Linked DNA regions of Homo sapiens. The protein of the gene in region 3 interacts with the protein of the main gene of each other region in a pairwise test. Each region holds a gene or a part of one and is shown on either strand. Other genes may lie near its edges. The genes, in order: SLC13A4, HIBADH, EFNA5 and SGPL1.

Region 1 (6,999 bases), on a different chromosome or scaffold from region 3:
GGAAAGAGTTCGAAAGTGGCATTTCCCCATGTAGGACGTTTCCTAGTCAGCTACTCACTTAGGCGTGGAACTGCTCGTTTTCCACGCAGTTTGACCACCCCAGTGATATCCCACTCCAACTTCACGGGAAGGAGGTTGAAGTCTGTTATCTGTTATCATCAATGACTGGGGGCGCCTTTTAAAAAATTTAGCTTGGGCAGTTGAGATGCAACTTTTATCCCACTGGGGGCACTGAGGAAGGGCTTAGTTATGGATGCTGTCTCTTGTACCCTCTTCTTCTATAACATGATAAACAGTGTCTGGACCTCTAGTTTTAGAGAGTTGGGCAAGAAAAAGGGGGAAGGTCATTTTGACTCCTCCTAAAATGTAGCTGAGGCTTGTCGCTTAGAACCATCAAAACTGCAGGCCAGGAGCTCCTGCCCAGGTACTCCATCACTGCTCTCAACTCCAGTCCAGAGCAAGAAAATCCATTTGGAATTTTAAGGGTTAAATATCAGACTCTAAAAGTTTGATGCAGGCCAGGCACGGTGGCTCACACCTGTAATCTCAACACTTTGGGAGGATCACGTCAGACCATGAGTTTGAGACCAGCCTGGGCAACATAGTGAAACCCCCATTTCTACAAAAAAAATTTTTTTAAAAATTAGCTGCATGTGGTGGTACTTGCTTGCCTGTAGTCCCAGCTACTCCAGAGGCTGAGGCACGAGGATTGCTTAACCCCAGGAGCTCAAGGCTGCAGTGAGCTACGATTGTGCCACCGCACTCCGGACTGGGTGACAGAGTGAGACTCTGCGTCTACAAAAAAAAGTTTGATGAAAGGGGTGACGGATGGATGAAACTCTACCTGCTGGGCACCTAGTCTGTGCCTTCTGTGGGCAGTGGCCAAGGTCCCCAAAGATGGGGCTGCCTCAACCAGGAGATATGAGAGGTTCCTGATACTGCTTGGGAGAGGAGGCTAGTATGTCTCTCGGTAACAGTCCCTTATAGCAACCTACATGGAGAAAAAACAAAAACAAGAAAAGCCACAAAAAGAAAAAAAATCAGGCCCATTTGGACAAAGCAGAAAATTGACTAGGGTACAGTCCAGGAAGAATGTCAGCAGCAATCACTGTCTGCTAATCCCAGCCCAGTTTTAATCAGCGTCTCCCTGGCACTCTGGAGTATTTATTCTATGAAAGATTTAAGCCAGTTTGTTTTTAAGAAGAACCATCCTAATCCCCTCTGTTTAACTGTTTAACTTAATCTTGGTTACCAAGTTACTTAAGGAGCAGAGTGGAAGAATTGCTCCCCCTCCTACAAACGTGATTAACCTGTTTTAGCTTATTTTTCCTAAAGTCTCCAGGGCAGTGCCAGCTGGGGGAAGGGGACAAGCCACAGACAGGAGGAAGAGAACAGCGGAGGGAAGGGAAGGGAAGCAGGTGACCACCAGGAGGGTGTGACAGGCAAGCTGGATGCTGAGCCAGAGCTGAGGTTCCTCTGTTCTCACAAACCAGGTGAAGAATGAGGTCACGGGCTAGAGTTTGGGGGCTCTTATCTCTTTTTTATCGTGTCACTTTTTGTCTGTCCTTCAAGAGGACAGAGAAGAAAACACAGAAGACACAAATAATTCAAGGCCACGTGCATGGGAGCAGGGCAGCCTGCTAAGTTCTGCTTTCATTCCTTCCCTAAACATTCATTCCCTGAAGTTGATAGGCGCCTTCGGGATTAGAGCTTCAACTGTGGTCATCGAAGCCCACCAGGACACGACCACAGACCACGGATTGGCTCCACGGTTCTCTTCCTCCCCCAACCTTCTCCTCAGTGCCACTATTGGGAGCTCTTTCTGTGTCTCCAGGGGCTCTCAGATAACCAGGGTCCCAGGTGAACTCCCGACAAACACAGGTGCACCATGTCGTTTGCATGGGTGTCGCTGGCCCCCGCTGCTGGGGCAGGCTGGCCTGCTGCTTGGTGCAACACCCATCAGTCACTTCTGCCAAGGCCCCTACTCTGTCCTGACCCCGGTGGGGGCCATGGGGTTGGGGGAATGGGACTGGGATAGGAGATGAACATGACAGCTTTTAGGAAGAAGATATCTTGGTTTCCTCTGGAAAAATCCTTCCATTTCTTTAAACCCACCACAAGCCACTTTGAGGGACTGCCTGAGCGCCCCATGTTCCCCTACCGACCTCCCCTCTTTGCCCTCCCACTGACTCCCAGACCCCCGGTGGGCGCAGGTCGGTACTCACGCTGCTGGGGTGGAGGACGGGCAGAGGCAGCAGCAGGAGCGGGACGCAGACGACCAGCAGCAGCTTCCGGACTCGGAGCAGGCCCTGCAGCAGGCCCATCGCGCCTCTGTCCTCTCCAGCTCGTCCTTGGACCCCGCTCTGCCGGCGAAAGGCTTCCTGCCTGGGCACTGCTCTCTATCCAGAAAGACTTCTTAAACCTTTCTTGGCTTCCGAGAGTCCTCCTTCGTCTTGGGGGCAGAACGGGAGGGCAGTTATACCCTCGCTGTTTCTACAAGAGGCTGGGCTCCTGGCCTCCTGCTTTAGGTGGGATTGATGAGCATCGTTTTGTGACCAGCAAAAAGGAACTGGGAAAGGATGATAAACGGGGGCATAGTGGGCCTCCTCTCGGCTTGATTAGTAATAGAGTAACTTCATTCTAGGTGTCAGCAGAAACCCCCTTAATCCTTTAAGCCACACCTTTGCTGCTGCTGCTCGGCCTTGAAGAAATCATTTAAAAGCTTAAAAACATTAAAAACGCTCAGAGCACATTGTGCTCTCCATCAGTTTTCCTCCCTCGGATGACCTATTTTGGGGAGTACCTGTTTCATCTCCCACCTGGGCTCGCTGTTGGTAAGACTCTAGTAGCCCCTTTCCTTAAAACAAGCACCTGAGCTTGTCAGAGTTGCATGCGGACTTCAGGTGGGGCTGCTGGTCGCTCCCAGGACGTGGTACCTTAACTCTGTTCACATGTCTTTCCCTCAAATTGGTTCCCTACTTATAATTTGCCTTGAGCCTGGGCCTGCAAAGCAGAAAAGAAAAGTCCCCAAGACATTCCTTTTTATCAAAGGACAAAACTTGCTGGAGGCCCACCTTTAACTTTCATCCACCAATGGGAAGCCGGGACAGAGACAGTAGCTCCGCCCACTTCTCAAAGCCAATCAGCAAATTGAAAAGAATGAGTCAATTTCTCTCCCCGCGGCCGCTCTTGATTGGTCACAGCGGGGGCCTGCTGATTCCGCAGAACCTAGGCAGCCTGCTAAGCTTATTTTTCAGTTTCTCAAACTTCCTAGGGCTGGAGTGATGACCATCATCGTAAACATAATCTCACGTACCCAAGCACAGCTTTATTGTTTCGGATCATAGGACACAGAGCTTTCGCTGGGAGGGCCACCTGCTGATCTAGACCTTGGGAAGGGAATGTGCCTGGTGGCAGGGAGAAAATGCAACATTACTTCTGGAGAATTTGCCTCAGAGTGTACAAAGTTAAGCCTTTCAGACCTCCCTGCTGGCAAAGATCGTTTGCCTCAGCACCGAGGGGGGAATATAAAGGGTCTAGGCCAGCAGAGGGTATGAGCTCGTGAGAAAGACCCCAGATCTTTTGGGAAGTATAGCTGCCTCCCTGGCAAAGTCTAGATGCCAGTCTCATGCCCAGATGTCAGTGGTCTCTCTGGCTAAAGTAGGTGCTCAAATGCTTCTCTCTGGGGCTCTCCAAAAAGGAAACCGAAGACCTTCTTTGGCTGGTACGAAAGGAGGAGGTGGGAGGGCAGGGAAGAAGTTGACAAGTTCAGGGACAAGGTCTTAGCTGCAGTTGAACTCTGGAATTTCTCCTGTTTACAGATTGGAAGAAGTTGTTAGCTTCTTTTCTCAGAACGGACATGTGGATTTGGGGCAAGGAAGAAAAGCAAAAGCAAAAGCCCAAACATTCTGTAAGTAGTGGTTCTTGGCAACATTACCTTACCTTGATCTGGGAGATGCTGAGCAGAGTCAAAGGGTTATAAAACCCATGTTGTCTTGAATTCACAGAACACAGGAATGGCGTTCGAAGATCTGCAACTATACTACTTGGAAATGATCCCCAGGCTAAAGTGACCAGGGAAGTGACCCAAAAAACAAATTCTTCTTGACTTTTAAGGCAGGTGCAACTGTGGACAGCTGAGGTCCCCTTTGAAATTATCTTGCCATCGTAGGATGGGCTAGGATGACTCAACTCTTTAAATGCATGTTAAAGACTGGCTACTGTATTTACTACATTCTGGCCTCATTTTTTTTTGGTTATGATTTTGAAACTCAGAATGAACAATACCACGTGTGTGATGTTTTGGTCGCAAACATTAAAGACAGCGAATAATTATAAGCAGCTGTGGAAGTCAACATCCACTGTTAAACCCATGAACCATTCCAAATTCCTCGGTGAGATACTCTGAGATAACAAAGATTCCAGTGAGCAACTCAATCATGACATCTTTATTATACCATAGATGAATATTTGTTAAATAAAAATAGGTACAGCAAGTGTACAATAAGACCAGTAGTTCTCCTTCAGAACTCTACCCATTTTTCAGAGGAAGGAAACACTTTTCCAGAATACAATGCTCAAGAAATGTAAGCCAGATCCCGCTTGTATGAGGTATCTTAAGTAGTCAGACTCTCAAAAACAGAAAGCAGAATAATGGTGCCAAGAGCTGGGGCAGGCAGGGGGAAGGGGAAAAGAGGAGTTGTTCGGTGGGTATAGAACTTCAGAATTACAAGATGAGAAAGTTCCGGGGGTCTGTTTCACAACATGCATGGAGTTAACACTGCTGTACCATATGCTTAAAAATGGTTAAGATGGTACATTTTACCTGATGTGTTTTTTACCACAATAAAAAAAATAAGATTGAAATGGATTAGGAAAGTAAGGGGTGTTGTAAAAAGTCATTTAACAAGCATTTGATTTTAGACCATTGGACCTGCAGAAATACTTTGATTTGTTAGATTCAAGGTGAGGTGACAGAGCAATGAAGTCTGCAGCAGTTAAATGTCTGTTGATGTCTCTTGAGTGACATTGGAGATAGCTGTGAGGATGCCAACGATGGAGGAAACTTAGAAAGTTTTTAGATCCTGGGCCAGGCACGGTGGCTCACGCCTGTAATCCTAGCATTTTGGGAGGCTGAGGCAGGTGGACCACTTGAGGTCAGGAGTTTGAGACCAGCCTGGCCAACATGGTGAAACCCCATCTCTGCTAAAAATACAAAAAAATTAGCAGGGCATGGTGACGTGTGCCTGTGGTCCCAGCTACTTGGGAGGCTGAGGTGGGAGAATCGTTTGAACACTGTAGGCGGAGGTGCCACTGCACTCCAGCCTGGGTGACAGAGCGAGACTGTCCCAAAAACAAACAAACAAAAACAAAACAAAAAAACCCACAAAGTTTTTAGATCCTAAAATTTGTCAGCAGAAATGGTTACATAAGTCATGGGCAAGTTTCCACCACAAACATCACACTCCCATATTATTCTAATAGTAATTATAACCAAATGTGACCCCTTCGTGACTGTAGTTGTATAGAGTGTGGCACTAATGAGGCAAAATAGGAGACCCTGTTTGTCTGTCTAGTCTACATTTCTACTACTCCTTGGGCAAAGAATAGGGTTTTTTGGCTGCTGGTGGTGATCATAATATTTGATTCTGCATGTCAGTGAAATCATTGTCATAAAACTCTCTGTGGGTAAACAATGATCTGCATTCAGATTAAAATAGTTTTTAAGACTCTAGTTACTGAAAATGAGTCTTCATTTGTCTTTAAAAAGGTCATGTCCTTCTTTTTTCTATTTTTTTTTCAGTCATTGATTGCCACAAAAATTCAAGCCCCAATTTGTGTTTAATTTTTTTGTTGCTGGGTGAATGTTCCTGGGAACCATCTTCCCATTCATGGATTTCTTACTACTGGGAGCAGCCATCTACATAACATGGTGGTCAGGGACTACAAGGGTGGGCCTTTCCATCTGATGATTCTGAGTACAAGAAAGCTTTCAGATCCATTGTCAAGGGAGTGGAGCCTCGGGGCGGGATACAAGACTGACTATCAGGGTATTGCACAGTGTCTAGGGACTGAGGCCATTGCTAATCCACTCCCCATCTGACATCTAGGAAAAGTACAAACTGTGAAGATAGGCTACCATGTTTATCTGCCTCTGGCCGATCCCAACGCTGTCTGTACACTGACTTGTGTTTTACTTAGACAATGATACCCAGAGAAGACTGACAGACAGTGAGTGTTAGAGTGTGGGTCAGCAGAGATAGAGCAAAAGTCAAGCAGAAGAGTCTTGGAGATGCATCAAAAAACAGATACAGAGATATTTGGAATTGGGCCCAAATATACAGCAGCAGAGATACCAACTAAAATAAAAGAAAGAAAGACAGAGACAAGCAGAGTGACCATGTCAGAGAGAATATGTACATTTAGAAAAAGAAAGATTGAACAAAAAAAGCATATATCAGAATCTGCATTTGGAGGAGGTAAAAGAGCAGAATGGTCAGGGAATGAGAAAGAGAAACTGAGACTTACTAATCTTCTGAGCCTGAGAATATCAGGATGCAAAGCTGTGTTTTTCTCTGATGATGAATACCTTCTTCCAGTGTCCTAGTATTTCTCCAAAAAGATCATGCGGCTAGCACTGCTATGCAAAGCTTATTTGCTCAAAGATTTTGAAGGAGTCCAGACCTCATCATTATCAAATGACAACTGTTAAATACCCATTTCAGAATCAAATTTAGCCCAATAAATCCTCACTCATTCAAAGATCAGACTTGTTGCAGCTTTTGCTTGCTGAGCTCAGCTGTAAACTTAGGAGAAGACAGAAAGATCTCTGAGCTAATGAGGAATCCTTATTAGGACCCAGACGCTCGACCCCTAGCAGAGGACTTCATCTATTAACTCTTATTTAACATAGAATTATAACAAACCTGGCTATCGTAGTTTGTAGGCAATGGCCAGCTAAGAAAGAACAGACTGTGAAGGGCAAGTTACATTGGTAAC
Region 2 (6,977 bases), on a different chromosome or scaffold from region 3:
TGTCTCAAAAAACATTTTTTTTTAAATTAGCTAGGTATCGTGGTGCACCCTGCAATCCTAACTACTTGGGAAGCTGAGGCGGAAGATCACTTGAGTACAGGAGTTCAAGGTTGCAGTGAGCTAAGTAGGTGCCATTGTACTCCTGCCTGGACAACACGGGGAGACCTGTCTCTAAAATGTATTTATAAAAAAGTTAAAAAGATGTGCTACTAACCGGCAACTTTCAGGTTTCATTTTTTTAAACAGTAAATTATATAGCTCCTTATAATATTATCATTCATATGATATAAACATCTTAAACATACTACAAATATCCAACAGAATTCAGAACATCACACATTACTATCTGAACATGGTTCTTTTTCTTAATGTCATTTGACTCCAAACTTGCAGGCAGATTTTTTTCTACTCTTTAAGAATCTAATGTCAGAAAAGTTAACACTTTTGCAGTAAACTAAAATTAACAGAAATTTAAATGTTTAAAACAATTCCAAAGAAAGGCCGGGCACAGTGGCTCACGCCTGTAATCCCAGCACTCTGGGAGGCCAAGGCGGGCGGATCACGAGGTCAAGTGATAGAGACCATCCTGGCTAACATGGTGAAACCCCGTTTCTACTAAAAAATACCAAAAAACTAGCCGGGCGTGGTGGCAGGCGCCTGTAGTCCCAGGTACTCCGGAGGCTGAGGCAGGAGAATGGCGTGAACCTGGGAGGCGGAGCTTGCAGTGAGCTGAGATTGCGCCAATGCACTCTAGCCTGGGCGACAGACAAAGACTCCGAGGGAAAAAAAAAAATTTTTTTCAAGAGAAAAAAAAATTGCTTAAGTGATTTAACCACTTCATCACAAAAGAACTATTTAAAATTTATCAGAAATCTATATTCTGACAATTACCTTTGGGCCAAAGAACCCAAAGTACAAGACCATATGCCAAAGTAGTCTAATCAGCACTCTGAGGTAGGCCCTCCCAGTTTACAGAGGCACGTATTACAGTCTTAGGCCTCAGGCTCTTTCACCATGAATTGGTAAGAACTTTCATAACTCTAAAAGGTACATCAAGGGTTCATTAAAATACCATTAGAACACCTTGTAAAACCACTAAACAGCAAATATGTCTTCCTTGGCTAATGGGAACTGAAAGAATTGTGAATTCATGTGAAAACTGGTGCTACTGTGGAAAAGTGTCTATTCTTTTAGGGTTATCTCAAAAGTCGGAAGCATTTTTGTAGCTCAATATATGAAGCTCAAACAGTGGTTACATTCAAGTTTGGCATATTCTGAGTTTTTATCTTGTTACTGTGGTTCTGTATCAGACATCTGGTCTCTTGCATCTCACCGAGCCTCTGTTCTTCTCCAGCCAGAAAGGAAATTCAGAGGTTTCACTGAGGGGGAGAATGGGAAGCTGTTAAGAATTGTAAGAGAAAGTTCTTACAATTCCTGGCCAGCCACAGTGGTTCATGCCTATAATCCCAACGCTTTGGGAGGATCACTTGAGCGCAGGAGTTCAAGACCAGCCTGGGCAACATGGCGAAACTCCGTCCCTACTAAAAATACAAAAATTGGACGGGCGTGGTGGCACATGCCTGTAATCCCAGCTACTCGGGAGGCTGAGGTGGGAGGATCACCTGAGCCCAGGAGGTCGAGACTGCAGTGAGCAGTGTGACTGGGCCACTGCACTCCAGCCTGGGCGACAGAGACCCTGTCTCAAAAAAAAAAAAAAAAAAAAAAAAGGGCGGGGGGCCAAGGGGCTCAAATCCTAACCCACTATTTTTTTTTTAAGCAAAGATTAGAAAAAATTAATGCCAAGGTTTTTTTTGTTATTAATCCTCAGTATGATCTTGCTAAACGATGCATTGTTACAACTCTCAAACTTTCAGTTTGAGGAAGACAACGGCAGTGCCCCCACAAATCAACCAATTTTTCAATTAAAGAGGAGTCCTGGTGTGATAGAAAGTTAAGGAATTAGGAACAACTGATAACAACTTTCTAGGTCTTGCTGGGAATATCCTGATTCACTCATCCAAGGGGCCTCATGTCCCTCGTGCGGAGTATGAAAGACTGTATTAGATCTCCGTGGATCTTCATCCTGGCTCTAAAAACTGCCTCTTTGTAAGTTCATGGCTAGCTTCCACAATTTACCATGGTATGAGAGGAGGGAGGCAGGATTAATTCTGCCCACAATCTTGAGGACGCTGAACGTGTTTTGGTTCATAATTTGACAAAAATGACATTTTTTTAGGTTACAGTAGAGGGGGGAAGCCCGTCTTGCTGGTCAAGGGTGACTGAAACTTTGCTGAAAGACTTACTGCCTGGCTTGTACAGCCACCGCTTGTGTAATAAGGCCATCCCCTCGGACTCAGGTGGTTAAACATCAGGCCCTGCTGCCCAAGTGTGTCCCCAACCCAAGGTGCACCCTGGGGGCGCTGAAAGACCAGGGGTCGCTGGGGTGAGTGCGGGTTGCTCCTGGAGTTGGGCGCTCCAAACGTCCTCGGAGTCCTAACTCCAAAGCAGCATGCCGGGGTCCCAAATACTCTCTTCTCTTCAGCCCAAGCTCTTCCCCACCTCTTCCTAAATCCCGAAAAGGGCGCTGAACCCGTTCATCAGGAGCCCGGGAGAAAGGGAGGGAAGGCAGAGGGGGGTACTCGCGGAGTGAGTGGCGGCCGCAGAAAAGGACAGGCCTTTAGTACCAGCCAAAATATTGTTTTTTAAGCCCCAGCCCAACCGCAGGGCCTCCCGAGAAAAGACTTCTTCGGCCGTCTGGACAGAAGAAGCGAGCGGCCGAAAGAAGGACAAGGGGGAGGAGGCGTGAGGTCCTTACCCGCTGCAAAGCTGCCGGCTGCCGGCCGCAGCCGCCGGCTCCAGTACCGGAGACCGGAGGCAGCTCCGAGGAGCCGTAAGGAGGCTGCCATGCTGCGCCCGCCCCTCTCCCCGCGGTGACCTCCGCCGCCTCCCGGAGGGCCCACAGACTGCGAGCGTGTGCAGCGGGACTGGCTGGCTCGCCCACGGAGAAGGGCGCGCGCGCACGCGCTCTCACCGCTCGGGGGCGGGTGCCCACGCGCGAGGGAAGGAGCGCGGAGCCGAGAGGAGCGGCCTGACGCGGCAGGGCCTGTCAATCCCTTTACGGACAGGGAAGCAGACCAATCAGAATTCCCAGGTCCGCAGCTGTGCGAAGGACCAATAAGAGGCCTTTTTGAACAGTGACGCCAGGCGCCCTGGCGCTGCCCCCAAGCTCGTGCCTCATTTACAGCCTGCGGGCGGGAGTCTCCTTGTTTACCAAAGCAGAGGGCGTGTGGGAGGCGGGGGCCGTCGCTCGCTCCCGCCTCCTCGGAAACCTTGTCCCCACAACCGCTGCGTGTTAAAAAGGACAAAACTGACTCGCAGCTTGAAAAACACTCAGAAAGCTACCATGTGTGTAATAACTTTTAAATTCATTTGATTTTACTTAACACAACAGTTTCTCAATACTAAAAATAGTAGGAAAAGAAGTTGGTAACATTATCTTTGAAGGGAAGAGTTACTAGAAACTTGCACTTTCTATTTCAAGGCATATTTCTCTAATCTTTGAAAATTCTACACCCTAAATCCATTTTGTAAGCAAAACTAAATATAAAATCCAGAAAGTAGTAGTATATGTATGTGTATTAGAAAGACCTTTTTTTTTTTTGGAGACGGAGTCTCTCTGTCACCCAGGCTGGAGTGCAGTGGCGCGATCTCGGCTCACTGCAATCTCCGCCTCCCGGGTTCAAGTGATTCTCCTGCTTCAGCCTCCGGAGTAGGTGAGGTGGGACTATAGGCCTGCGTGCGCCACCACACCCGGCTAATTTTTTTGGCACTTTGAGTAGAGGCGGGGTGTCGCCATTTTGCCTAGGCTGGTCTCAAACTCCTGGCGTCAAGTGATCCGCCCGCCTCGGCCTCCCAAAGTGCTGGTTATTACAGGCGTGAGCCACTGCGCGGTGCAGAGAGACAGACATTTAGTCATTCTTCTGTCAATGCTTAGTGTACATATTTGAGTCTGTAAACCCCTTGGGGGTAATTGCAGGCCTTCTCATCTCCACTGACTCCACCAAAGGGTTGGAAGCCATGACCACACCAAAGCAAGACTATAGCCTTTGGAGAATGGCAATACAGCAGGAAAGAGAATGTGTATGGAGTAGCTAGGGAAATGCGAACCCCAATCTAAGTAGCACAATCAACAAAATTTGACTTTGACCTTTTTTTCAACTCAGTAACCCATGGAGTTGAAAGCAAAGGAATTGGATCATTTCCATCTGGGCTCTTTTCATGTTTCTGGGCATGCTGGCAACGTTTCCAAAAACTTAAAAACTTGTACAGAGTGCAAGGTCCCTATCTGTAACTGGGAGGAAGTTAATGCCCTTCTTTGACCATCACTCCACCCCAACCCTCTACCCAACACTAAATGAAAAGAAGGAAGGAAAGGGACGAAGGGAGGGAGGGAGAAAAAACTCATTTCAACAATTAGACCTTCTCCTAGATTTGGGTCCCCACCCCTACTAGGGGTAAATTAGTTTCTGGAGCATTTCCCACCTGTGCCTCTCTTCCTGGTTTCGTCAGGTTTTAGCTGGAATAGATCTCCTGCAGGCAACAAATGTGGGCCTACAGGTTTCTTTTTCTTTTTCTTCCTCCAGCACTACAGGTTTCTATAATTAACTCCTGAACTGCAATTGGTCTTTCAACTGTGTCTCCTCCAAGAAGCCCTGCATTGTCTTCTCCAACAATGTCTCCTCCAAGAAGCCCTACATTGATTCATAAACTAAGGAATTTTCATAGGTTTCCATGATTTTAAAGAAGCGTTATGAATTTTTAAGTAATTCTTACTGTTTGAAGGTGCTTGCAGATATTATTGTACTGGCAAATGCAGTTCCTGCCTATGGCTGGTTAGCTTTCTTCATTTGATTGCCCTCCTGATGCCCTTGTTTGAAAGGCACTGCAACTCCTCCCTGAGTCTTTGCCACGCATTTTTGTTTGTAATTGTTTCAATGCCTTATAGTGGCCCCTGACTTCCGCTTCCAGGAAGATGGAGTAGATAGGTTTCTCCCTATTCTTCTAAGTACAACTAAAAACTCAACATTATATATAAGATAAACATAGGGAGACTTTGAAAGGTGGAGAGAAGTCACACTGGCTAGGGTCCAGAGAGCAACACGGTGGGAAGTTCCTTGGGTTTTCATGTAGCCTTATATACCCCAAACTGGGTGCTGGAGAAGCCAAAACCAGAAACCCCAAAATGCCAGGAAGCATAGATAGACAAAAAGTGCCCCAATAAAAGGCTGCTCTTTCTAGCCAAGTGATGAAAAAGGAGTGGCCTAGCAAGAAAGGAAACATTTAGAAGATAATCACTCCACTGTAGACAAACAATACACACATACATACACACACTGACCCCACCCCATAAAGCAAAGGCTGAGTTGGGAGCCTAGACTTCCACACTCTCCAGGTTGTGATGAGACACCCCAGCATCCTAACACCCCAATCGCTCTACTCCTCAACCCCTCTAAGGTGATGTCAGAGAAAACCAAAGAGAGGTATGGGATTTTCATCTTCAACTGGGCAGTAACAAGTAATCCTCCACACACATCCTTCCCTACTCTCAGTGTCACTGGAAACCACAGGGCGACCCTGGATTTCCACTCCTACCTTACAGTGGTGAGGTACCCCTCCCTTTCCCTGCTTAGATGGTGTAATTGGAGGTGTATTGGAGAGTCAGAGCTTTCATCACTGCCCAATGGTAAGGATGTCACACCCCTTCCCCTCCATGGTGTCACTGGAGGCTACATGGGGGCAGTAAGGAGCCATTCCAAGCCCTCTCAACTAGGGAAGTATCAGTGGACAACTAGTGGGGAGCTGAAACTCCCACCATTGCCCAGCAGTAACAAGGAACCACCCACCCTTGGTGTCAACAGAGGTGGAATAAGGAACCTAGACTTCTACTACCAGTTGCCATTTACAAGTTGATGCCCCCTGCCAGAGCAGTGTCAAGAAAAACTAGTTAAAATAAAAGGTTTAAATAATATCCAAAATATCATAATACCCAAATGTCCAGATTTCAACAAAAAATCACTCATGATACCAAATTTCAATTAAAAAATGACTCATGATTCCAAAACCCAGGAAGATTTCAAGCTGAATAAAAAAGACAATAGATGCCAACACTGAGATGACAAGTTAAAATTATCTAACAAAGATTTGAAAGCATCCATCAGAAAATATTTCAAGAAGCAATTAAAACATGCTTGAGGCCAGGCATGGTGGCTCACACCTGTAATCTTAGCACTTTGGGAGGCCGAGGCTGGCAGATCACTTGAGGTGAGGAGTTCAAGATCAGCCTGGCCAACATGGTAAAACCCCATCTCTTCCAAAAAAATACAAAAATTACCCAGGTGTGGTGGTGGGCACCTGTAATCCCAGCAACTCAGGAGGCTGAGGCAGGAGAATCACTTGAACCCAGGAGGCGGAGGTTGCAGTGAGCTATCACGCCACTGCACTCCAGCCTGGATGGCAGAGTGAGACTCCTTCTCAAAAAGTAAAATAAAACAATAAAACATGCTTGAATTAAATAAAAAGAAATCTCAGCAAAGAAACAACATATAAAGAAGAAATAAATGGAAATTTTAAAACTGAAAAAATGCAAGAAATACAATTTTTTAACTCAACAGCAGAATAAAGAAAAGAATCACTGAGCTAGAAGATAGAACAGTAGAAACTATCTAATCTAAACAGAGAGAAACTAGACTGGGATTTAAAAAGCTACGAAGCGCTGGGCGAGGTGGCTCAAGCCTGTAATCCCAGCACTTTGGGAGGCCAAGGCGGGCGGATCACGTGGTCAGGAGATCGGGACCATCCTGGCTAATACGGTGAAACCCCGTCTCTACTAAAAATACAAAAAAATTAGCCAGGTGTGGTGGCGGGCGCCTGTAGTCCCAGCTACTCGGGAGGCTGAGGCAGGAGAATGGCGTGAACCC
Region 3 (4,579 bases):
TTCTCCTCTAAGAACTCACCTCCGTTAGCGCACTGTGTCAGCGGGCTATGGACAAGGAAGAATAGTGGCAGATGCAGCCAGCGCTGGCTAGGGCTGGGAGGGTTTTGCTCTCCTATGCAATATTTATGCCTTCTCATTCAGAACTGTAAGATGATCGCGCAGGGCATCATGTCACCATGTCAGGTCCGGAGGGGAGGTATTAAGAATAGATACGATATTACACCATTTCCTATAGGAGTATGTAAATGAACAGGCTTCTAAAAGGTTGAGACACTGGTTTTTTTTTTTAATATGACTGTCTTAAAGCATTCTTGACAGCAAAACTTGTGCTCTCTAAAAGAAGCCTTTTTTTTTTTTCTAGGAGGCAGGTTGGGTGTGGAATGCTAATACAGAGCAGGTGTGAAAACAGAGAAAACTACAGGTTTGCTGGGGGTGTGTATGTGTGAGTGCCTCTAATTTTTTTGGTGACTGGGCAGTGCACACCAGATATTTTTTCTTTGAATACAGATCACCATGGTGCTACAACTTTTTTTTTTTTTTTTTTTTTTTTTTTTTTTTTTTTTAAGAAACTCAAAGAGGCATTTTTATGAATAAAGTGACCTTCCCCAAGGCTGACAAGCCAGGGTTGATGAGTGCATAGTGGAATAGCTTTGGATACTCCTCTGGGGGATGACATGTACCAAGGAGAGGACCGCAGTGGCCAGAGGAGACATGATTTGGCTTTGCTGGAGCGCCAGTGTGCTGTGGCCTTTCCCCGCCTCCCACCCTAGTACCCACGTTTTGCTCCACACTCCTTGACCGCAGGGGCTCGGACACAAACCCCTGTCACCAGGAGAGTCAGTCAGCACTACTTGGGAGGGCTAAAGGGAAATTTGGAAATAAAATTCCAAAGTTTGGAGTAAAAAAATTCAAGTGTTGATTTTATATTCTTTCCCTTTCTGACACAGCCTAAAGCGTAGGGGGAACATGTGTTTATCTGTGGGAGATAAACAAGATGGAGTCCCAAAGACTTTAACAAAATATTTTTTTAAAAATCCACTAGAATAGAAAATACATTATTTAGATATACTTTATGCTGAGAGTGAGTATATATGCTTGTCCTATTTAAACTTGTGAGAAAAAGTGGTATCCCTTGATACATTTAGAAATATGGGGGCTATCTTGTTTCATTGTGGGGGTGGGGCAGAAGGAGAATAAATGCAGGATGACCCTGTTGAAGGAATCTTAGCATGGCCAACAGGGGACGTTTCCAGTCGATTACCAGGAAATGCAAGCCTTGGGGTTTCTACTGGTGGTGGGGCTGTCATGAACTTTAAAATCCAAAGCCTAGACAAGGAAAAGTGTTAGACCAATTGAAAAGCAATCCAGCCCTTTTTTTTTTTTTTTTTTTGGCTTTGCACGACATGTCAACAGAAACCATGCCTTTCAATATAAGAAATAAATGTGATGATCATGTAAAATGTGAAAAATTGAAAGCATTCCAGCAAAATAAGAATTTTTTATATATTTGTTTTTTAAGATGTATATGTTAAAAAAAGAGAAGGTCGCATTATGGACAGACTTCGTGAATGGGAATTTGCTTAGAATTGTGAGTAGTTCTGAATTAGAAAAGTATGTGAAGGAAAGGCAGCTGTAAACGTATTGTGCCCTGGAGAGTTGTACACATGTTGAAATGTAATCTGGGCTTACCTGATCCATTTGGAGTGGATGTCACTGCCGAGTCTGTTCTCACATGGAACCATGTGTGTGGGGTTGCCAGCCTCACAGATACAATCAATCCTATTCCCCTCTGACATAAGGAACTCCTCTGGAGTGGCAGAGTCTTATCACAGAAGGCAGCCACCATTTCACCAAAACAAAAGTTCACGGCATTCAATTCCTTTTTCCTTTAGCTATTTATATATGCAGTACTCTCAGTCATATGCAGAAATACTTTTTTTTTTTTAATTAATAGTTACAGGCTTGTTGGTCCAGTGGGATTTGGGTAGGGGGAGAAAGATACCTTCTAAAATGGATCAATAGAACCAAAATAATACAGCATGTTCTATAACCACAAGGAAATCAAATGATCCTGTCATGATTCCAGTTAGTCATAACTATGTTAGCAGTGCTAAATGCATTTTAGAAATGGTGACTTCTGTGGTTTTCCTAGCATTTGTCTCTAACAAATGGTGAAATAATTACTCATGGCCCTCTCTGCCATTGTCTTTCATTTTTTCACAGTGAAATTAGACCCCTTTACTTCACCATTCTGCCACTGCAAATTAAGTATAAAGAAAATAGCAAGAGTGTCCACACCAGTAGACAGTAAGCTTCTCTACCTGTAAGTGATGAAATCATAGCTAATGCACTTGCCATGGAGTTTTCAAGATGATTGGTGTCAGACAGTTTTCACTTTGTTTAAAAAGTGTTGGTGGCCTTTTGTGGTGGTGTTACAATCCTCTGGGGGCTTAGGAGGATGTTGATGCAACTTTTAGAAGCTTTTAATTTCAAAAACAACTCAAAAATCTGAAGGACAGTCATAGCTGCCACTCAGCCCCAGTTAGTCAAACCCCAGTGACCTTTGCCCCTGGTTGCCAAGGGCTTTGCAACATCAAGCAGGGAAATAAGGATCTGTCTGTTTAGTGGATACCGTGTATCCTTTAATAGACCAGGTAACAGTTCGTGTTAGTTTAGACTATTGTTTTGTACTGTACTTTCTTGGGTGGCAGAGGAAAGAAAAGTAAAACATTAAAAAAAAAAAAAAAACTGCGTTCTTTAAATTCTGTATTATTAGCAACCTCTGTTGTACATAGTGTTTGATAATAAAGTATTAATTTGATTCTTATGTCTTTTGTAAGTGAGAACAATAGACTTTCAGGATACAAAACATGCATTGAGGCTTTGAAACATCCAATGTGTACCATGGCTGAAAAAAAGAGTCACAAGTGGCTGAGACACTGCTCCATACAGGACTCATGTGTGGTCATTGCCCACCCAATCTTATGACTCCATCATCTTGGGACCTGGAACAACATGACTTTTTTGATCGATATTTTGTCCTCGGTGTTTTCAAGGTCTGATGTTGGAGCCCTGTGGCCCACCCTCCCTTCTCCACCAGCATGTTGGTTTGAAAAGGATAGGGAATTTAGAAACAGTTCTGTACTTTGGTTTGGTTTGGTTTTCTGTTTGTGATTGTTTTCATGGACTGTTTTATTTTTTCCCAGGAAGAGTCTTTATCAATATCATGTGCAGCTCACTCATGGAAATGGTTGCAAACCAATCAGTGTAGGAAGCTTAAATGGGGCTGTTTCCCTCTCTGTGTCGTTGTGAAAGGAAGAGTCACACAGTACCTGTGGATTTTCAGGGACTCTGTTTTTCTCCGGTGCCTTAGCAACGGCAGCAGCCATTTGTATTATTTTCAAATAATTAGAAAAACAGTTTTCAACTCCTCCTTTCCATTCATTGCTCTCAGAGTTGTGGTCACTGACTTTTCTTTTGAAAACCGCCTCCACCAACACCCCCGTTTGCCTACACCACCCCCCTTTTACTTAGTATGTTTATTTTTTGTGTGTCTCTTGCCTTCCTCCCACGTTTTATTTCCCCTCAGAGCTGTGAATGGGCAGGTCTGTCTCTGGTTTGGCATCACTGAGTTTTTCCCATGCATTGGCCCCAGGGCTGCTAGGATGTGAGACAAATCTCCCTACAATGGGCTTGCTCCCATTGTCTGTACAGTTTAATAGATGCTGGCATGTCGGAGGTTACCCATGAGTCAAAATCCGCTCTCCATGCTTACTCTTGACACCCCATTGAAGCCACTCATTGTGTGTGCGTCTGGGTGTGAAGTCCAGCTCCGTGTGGTCCTGTGCTTGTACTGCCCTGCTTTGCAGTTCCTTTGCACTTACTCATCGAGTGCTGTTTTGAAATGCTGACATTATATAAACGTAAAAGAAAATGTAAAAAAAAAAAACCCACACACAAACAAACCCATACGATCTGTATTTGTATATACACGTGTCCGTACAAGTATAACTAAATAAAAATTAAAGATTTTCATCATTTTAATTGGATCCCTCCTTCTACTTGTTTGTTCCTTGAATGATGCCTTTATTTCAGGGGCTACTTGTACTCTGCTGATTTTTCAAAATCTTTGTGGACAGAAAAGATAATACAACATGCACAAGAGAAGGCCTGGGAAGCTCAAAGAATGCAGAGTTAGAAATGGCCAAGTATCTGGGCGCATTCCAGTTATTCTGATGAGAGAATAGTGAGATTTCAGCCTAGTCTCTGTATTTGAGCCTTAAAATAGGCACTATGACAAGCCCTGCATCCTAAAACGACTGTTAAATACAACAGGAGCCAAATACAAATTGTATTCTTTTACTTTAGACATAGTTTTTTCACCCCATCAAGAAAAAGACCAAATAAGCATTTTCCCAGCAAATATACTGGAAGAAGAAAAGAATAACAGTAATGATAATCATAATCTCTTCAGTACTGCCCAAAGCCTCAATTCTCACAATCAAGGAAGAATTAACTTACTACTGTGTGACCTTAGGCAAGTCACACGATATCTTTGGGACTCAGTTTCCTTATCTGT
Region 4 (7,035 bases), on a different chromosome or scaffold from region 3:
GGCCTCCCAAAGTGTTGGGATTACAGGCGTGAGCCACCGCGCCAGGCCAGTTTTCTCTTAAAGAAATATATTTATGTCTTTTAAAAAATCTCTATTACTTTAGGTTTTTCTGTTATATACACTCAAACCTAATTCTAGCTGATGCATTCAGTGATCTGGACACATGAAAAATTTTCTAAAAATTAAAGCTGTCCAACAGTGGAAAGAACCCCCTGAGAAAGTATGTAGCACTCACTCCTGACAGGGCATTGTAGAGGGATTCCTAGGCAGCAAGAAAGCTGGACTGCAGTACTTTTAAAGGCCCTCCAGGCAATTAAGATTCTAAGGCTACTACTGGAACAAAGCAGCTTTGGGCTTGCCAAAGCTGTGGCAACTGTGTGCCTCTGAATCTATCCTGTTAAAATCAGTGGGAACATTCCCTTTCTATAATCCATATGCTATCCACCTTCAAGATTCTGTTCAAGAATTATCTCCTCATTTGTGCCTTTTAAGACAAACTAGACCTCTCAACTCCAGCATGCTGGATGTTCTCCCCTCCAGATGATCTCCTCCTCCAGATCCTCCATCCAGCATTTTCCAGCTCGGCTATGTGCCTCCGGATTCCACCCTCTGAATTAAATCAACCAGACTCCTTAACCTCTGGTTTCCAGTTGTATTAGACCAATGGGAGGCTACAGCAGGAGATCAGAGGGTAGCAAAAGAGTTTGAAGTATTTATTCCCCTTGATGCCTTTCCTACTGGGTCACTGGCTGGCATTCCTACAGGTTACCTTCTCCTTCATCTCAACTCTCTCAAAGTTCCAGAAACTACTCCCTTCCTTGCCCTCTCACAGGCTTAAGAGTGTAATCCCAGCTACTTGGGAGGCTGAGGCAGGAGAATCACTTGAACCCAGGAGGCGGAGGTTGCAGTGAGCCGAGATCGAGCCACTGCACTCTAGCCTGGGCGACAGAGCAAGACTTGTCTCAAAAAAAAAAAAAAAGAGAAAAAACAACGTCAGAATAACCAACATGAAAATTTTTTAGGATAACTTGGTGCCTACCTGAAAAATGTATTGTGTTTTAGACTCTTGATTTCAAAAGGTTCCACAGAACTAGTCTGCGCTTACCTTACCCATGTTTATATATAGCTGTCCTACAGGGAGCTTTTATTTAGAAAATGTCTGCATAATGTTAGATTCTTCTCCTGTCTACATTAAGCACTACATAATTGGACTTCATTATGCTTTTGAAATGCTTATCTGCCTGTCACATAAGTTAAACTATTTAATTTGTTTTGAATGTTTTGGATTGCTACATAATACAATATTCTAAATTTAGGCATGAGGGTTTTTTTGTTTTGTTTTTACTTTTTTTTTGTCATCGCACTATGGAACACAAATTAAACTCTCTTAATTTATAAGAAGATAGTTGCAGTTAAATTTTGAAAATGGTTGTAATGAGCCATGAAGTTCAATCTTTGTAATATAGGTATTGCTCTTTCAGACAAATAGTCCATTTTCAATGACTTATTATTTTGTTGAAATTGTGGTCGCTAATCACTTGGTTGCCAAATATTTACTTCAGGAGCAAAGATTTTCAAACAAGCATACATGATGCAAAATACCAATCTGGCTTCTAGTCTCTTTACTGTTTTTGTTTCACTCAGATTAGCTCAGTTTTCTCATCAAAGCAGAATGCTATCTTGTATGTATTTTTTTCATTACAAGACCCATGAGCTGCTTTTATGCTGAAAATGGTCATTTCCCTGTTCACTTACTGACATGTGAAGAAGGGTTTCTTGCTTTCTTAAACATTTCCGTAAGGCAGGCTAGAAATGTAATGCTTCAAATGTTCGATGATTATGGTCTTTTGATAGGAACAGATTCTGCTTGGGATATATATCCAGGCACTCTCTAAGGTCTAGGGTTGATATTAACAAAGGAATGTACTTAGAATAGCAGTACATTTTATGCAAATATGGAAATTATTTTAAGAAACAATGACATATCAAAACTGCTTTTTATTTACATGATTTTGAAATAGACTAGAAAGCTTTCCCTATAGACATATCAATATTCCAATCATAACTTTAATTCAAGAATGCAGTTTTACCAAAAGAAAAATCTGAAAATTTCTATTCAGGCTACTGGAATTGGTTATTAAAAGAAAAAGGAAAAAGAAGAATCTTGCTGCTTTCAGTATTTCCTGATTTTTTTGTAAATATAAAGAGGAACTTCAATTATGAAAAATTTTTAAAAGATATATATATCTATATATCTATATATATGTACTGTTTTGTTTCCTGTCTTGAAGATTTTGAGTTATGGTTATTGGTTTCAGATTGATTAATTCACATATGCTGTGTTTTGAAATGAGATCCCATTAGCTTTTTTTTTTTTTTTTTTTCAATATAAAGTGTTTTCTTTAAAAGTCTGATATTGGTTCGTGGCCTAGTGCCTTGGATTTTACATATTTTTCTTTTTAAATGCAAAACCTTTTCAACAAAATAGTGTTTGTCATCAGGTTGGTACTAAACATTTATAATTACTGTGTAATTATAAACAAAAATACATAAAGCTTTGAATATAATTATGTAGGATAAAAGTTAAGGTTGTTCACTATGATGGCATCTTAGAATTAAACAAAACTTTTACTAGGGCTGAAAAGAGAAGACTGATTTAATGTGGTGTGATTATTCTGAAGATAAATGTCTGGCTACAGGGAATATTTTGTACTAAAAAATGATTACACATATGGCTGTGTGTGTTTGAGTCTGTGTCTGTGAGAGAGCCAGAGAGAGTGAGAGAGATTGACGGAGAAAGGGAGAGACACACACACGCCCCTTGAATTGCTTTAACTCCTAAGTGTTTCAGTCCTCATTCCGGTAAACTCCCCATGCTGATTCTTTGTTTTAAACTGAACCATAGGTACAGTTTCCTTTTTGCCAAATGTCAAAACAGGTACAAATTTTAAAATGTAATGCTTTTTAAATAGAAAAATGTATAAAATTAGAAGTGCCCACATATAAAAAATACTTGAGATGAAGATTATCTTTAGTGAATATCATCTGCATATCTCTGTAAGTTCAATTGTGTTTCTTACAGTCCCTGTCATATTACCAATAGAGGCAATAAAAGCTTCAGTGAAATTGCCATGACAAAAAAAAAAAAAAAAGAGTGATAATGGCTCTCCTATTGCTAGCTAGCCCTTAGATGTTTCACCTAGATGTTTTCCTTAAACCTGCTCAGCCTTGAAAATAGTCCCTTGATCCCTTAGTACGCTGTTGGATTATGCCAAGATATGACTGATATATCCACAAACTACTCGCAGCCTTCACCATTCCATCTTCTCAGAGGGCCCCTATCTCCCCTTCCCCCACAGCATGGTTTTTATCTCAGTAATTGGGTTCTGTACATTTACACATACAGACTGATTCACATCAATTCCCTATGGAAATTCTTAAACCCAGGCTGATTCTCAATTCTGCCACCAATGTGCACAAACTGTATATAATATTAGATTGGGTAAAACCTAATTAAGAAGGTAAATATTACTAAAAATTCCTGACACATAGACTGAAAAGCTAAGTCAAATACTGGGATTTGGATTCTATCTGTTTATAACCCTCTTTTCCTTTAAACCAAAGGCTGTGGAAATTATTACAGCTCTGTTTCATCTATAACACTGGGAGATTGCCAAATACAGTGTTCATCCTGCAATGGCCACTCAAATGTCAACAAATTTTTTAATGTCCTATCAACAATCCCAATGAATTTTCCCTTTCTTCTAGCAAATCCTACAAACAAGACACAAGGCTCAAATAATAGAACAGAGCTCCTAAGGTCAATCTTTCAGTTTATTGCTTAAATCCCACTTGAGATTCAGAAAGAAAGCATCCCTGAAAAAGAGTCAAGGGTCACAGATAAAGACGCTCAAGGACCTGGAAAGATTCAATTTTTGAACCCAAAAAACAAAACTGAGGGAAGCTTGCTGTTTGCAAATCAAGAAAAGAGTGGTGCAGAAATGTTGCAAAGGACAGCATTTCTTAAGAATTCTGCATTGCTATAAAAGATCAGCTGCACCATCTCCAATATATATTCCTGAGCAGCAAGGCTTGACCCATGGGCAAAATAACCCCAAGTGAGACAATAACAGACACGTTAACCTCCAAGAAGGGAATCACTCCCCCACCCATATGAAAGCATAGACTACACAGATATCCAGGTATCTATGGTAAGAAACTTCATACCAGTTTCTCAACCTCACCACTATTGACATTCTAGGCCAGATAATTCTTGTTTGCAGGAAACTGTGCGTTGTAAGGTGTTTGGTTGCATCCCTAGCCTCTACCCACTAGATGCCAGCAGAACCCTTCAGGTGTAACAACCCAAAATGTCTCTAGGCATTGTCAAATGTCACCCAGAGGGCAAAATTGCCCCTGGTCAAGAACCACTGCCCTAGATAAGCAATTATCACTCAAACCCCACCTAGCACTACCAGGGTGCACACGCTAACCTTGATTCATCTATGAATATCAGCTAATTTAGTCATCATTTTCTGATGAGAAAAGAAAAAAGCCACCTAAGGGGTAGACTGGCTTTATAAAATACCTTTTTCTTAAAAACTACAAATATTTGGCAACTTGCAAAGTGATACCACCCTCTAGCACCAAGGAGGAGAGTATGAATAAAAAGAATGGTTGCCAAGGGGGAGAAAGGCTGCTACAAAGCTGTCTGACTTGAATTCCCTCTGACATCATCACAACTCTCAGCAGATGAACATACTCATTTTATTCTCTATGAGACACAGGTGGAAAGTACTGCAGTCTATGACACATCACATACGAGCAAATGGAAAAAGGCAAGCAAACTATCCTAATCAAATGATAACAAAATTGAGGGCAGGAACACACTGAGGGCTGATAGCCCGAGCCTGTCAGTCTGGATTCAAGGCTTGTTATATGTGGACTCCAGGTCATCTCCAGGTTTTCTCTCACAGCATACTGTCCACACAAGTAGTCTTCAACTCTATGACCCAATGCCCTCTTTTTATAACAAATATTCTGTAATCCCTTTTGCTACTCTGACATGGCATTTAAAGATTATAACACTATGCCTGCAGATACAAGTTTTAAAATTTCAATATAATTCATTAAATGCGACGTAAAAGAAAATAAAACACAAATTTTTTTTTTTTTGAGACAGTCTCGCTCTGTCGCCCAGGCTGGAGTGTAATGGTGCAGCTTCAGCTCACTGCAACCTCCACCTCCCGGGTTCAAGCAACTCTCTTGCCTCAGCCTCCTAAATAGCCGGGAATACAAGTGTACGCCACCATGCCCAGCTAATTTTTGTATTTTTAGTAGAGACAGAGTTTCGCCATGTTGACCAGGCTGGTCTAGAACACCTGGCCTCAAGTACTCTGCCCGCCTGAGCCTCCCAAAGTGCTGGAATTACAGGCATGAGCCACCACGCCTGACCCAATAAACAAGATTTAATAATAATTTAATAATAAAACATGTATTTTCAGACTACACTAGAAGAAAAAAGACTCCCTCCTCCCCCAGTCCCCCATTGCCAAAGTGCCCCCTAGAGGGTGGAGCTATCCTATCCCATCTGCTCCACACAGACCCTCTCCCATCAGTCACAATGGTCAGCAACCTCTACCCTTACCAGGGGTAAGGACACAAAGTAGGCAAGAGGGAGGGATCTGAAGTCAGACCAACTGAGGTCAAACTTGGCTCCACCACTCAACTGCTGTAGTTACTCTCTATAAGCCTCGTTTTTCATCTGTAAAAGAAGGATACCAAAAGGTTTTTGTGAAAATTAAATAAGTACAGTATTCCTACACTTAACATGTAATACATGCTCAATAAATGTTAGCTATCAGAGTTAACATTACTATTCCTGAATCCACCTTGTATTGTTTCCTAGCTTTTGCTCACTTATTCCATTAGCAGAAAAGACGGGAGACTGGATATCCATTTACCAGAGATACTCTTCAACAGATTCATGTATAATATAAGCTGCATCACAGGCCAGGTACAGTGGCTCATGCCTGTAATCCAGCACTTTGGGAGGCCAAGGCAGGCGGTTGGATCCCTTGAGCCCAGGAGTTAGATACCAGCCTGGGTAACATGGCAAACTACCATCTCTACAAAAAATAAATACAAAAATCAGCCGGGCATGGTGGCATGTGCCTGTCGTCCCAGCTACTCAGGAGGCTGAGGTGGAAGGATCATCTGAGCCTCAGAGATTGAGGATGCAGTAAGCTGAGATCATGCCACTGCACTCCAGCCTGGGCATCAGAGTGAGACCTTGTCTCAAAAAAAAAAAAAAAAAAAAAGCTGCATCCCATGACTTCTAAGACTATTTCTAATTCTGAGATGCTGCACTGCACTGAGGTTATTTTTTTATTCACTTAGGTCCTTTCTTCCCAGGTGGAGGGCCAAGAACATGTTTTACATATCATATAAAGTAGCTTGAGAAACACCTCATAGAATGATGGGTTAGTGTGCCACTGAAAACCCAGCCATGGTTATTGGTTCTTTACCAGTTAGTTCCAAATAGCATTATACATTACAGTCAAGGAATGAATGACAACTTTTCCAGTGAAAGCACTTCATGCAACATGTATGTTGTCTTCAGAAAGTGATGACTGCCTAGGGCCACTCGCATCTATGTGGATTAATTCCTTACAGCAACAAGCAAAGCAACACTCCTAAACATTCTAAATTAACAGGTGAGGAGGTGAAAGGTGGTGGCAACAGCTAGAGAAATACCTCAAAAGAAAACTGATTCCAAAGTTAATATTCCGAGTAAAAGCAGTCATTGTTCTGTTAAAGTAAATGCATAGGCCCTATAAGTAATAACCATATCTCTGTGCATGGGGAAATATCTTACATATAAGAACCTATAATTTACATAAACATATCCTTCTGTAAGAGGATAAACAGAAACTGTCAATTGCTACAAGTCACTCTGCATTAACCATCCAAGATGCTCACAGCGGTTATTTCTGGGTGATAAATTACTGCACGGGGTAGAGGCGAATGAAGGGG

What was found.
Region 1: the proteins of EFNA5 (region 3) and SLC13A4 interact in binary tests that used the Homo sapiens proteins (3 or more experiments, as listed by UniProt).
Region 2: the proteins of EFNA5 (region 3) and HIBADH interact in binary tests that used the Homo sapiens proteins (3 or more experiments, as listed by UniProt).
Region 4: the proteins of EFNA5 (region 3) and SGPL1 interact in binary tests that used the Homo sapiens proteins (3 or more experiments, as listed by UniProt).

Annotation. Positions count from the first base shown.
Region 1 is NC_000007.14:135,725,173-135,732,171, forward strand, and holds the start of SLC13A4 (solute carrier family 13 member 4), read right to left. Parts: upstream 3,015-6,999; 5' UTR 2,325-3,014; coding exon 2,226-2,324; intron 1-2,225. UniProt on the Homo sapiens protein: Sodium:sulfate symporter that mediates sulfate reabsorption in the high endothelial venules (HEV).
Region 2 is NC_000007.14:27,659,883-27,666,859, forward strand, and holds the start of HIBADH (3-hydroxyisobutyrate dehydrogenase, mitochondrial isoform 1 precursor), read right to left. Parts: upstream 3,002-6,977; 5' UTR 2,907-3,001; coding exon 2,816-2,906; intron 1-2,815.
Region 3 is NC_000005.10:107,376,359-107,380,937, reverse strand, and holds the end of EFNA5 (ephrin-A5 isoform 1 precursor), read left to right. Parts: 3' UTR 1-4,044; downstream 4,045-4,579. UniProt on the Homo sapiens protein: Cell surface GPI-bound ligand for Eph receptors, a family of receptor tyrosine kinases which are crucial for migration, repulsion and adhesion during neuronal, vascular and epithelial development.
Region 4 is NC_000010.11:70,818,913-70,825,947, reverse strand, and holds part of SGPL1 (sphingosine-1-phosphate lyase 1), read right to left. Parts: intron 1-7,035. UniProt on the Homo sapiens protein: Cleaves phosphorylated sphingoid bases (PSBs), such as sphingosine-1-phosphate, into fatty aldehydes and phosphoethanolamine. Elevates stress-induced ceramide production and apoptosis.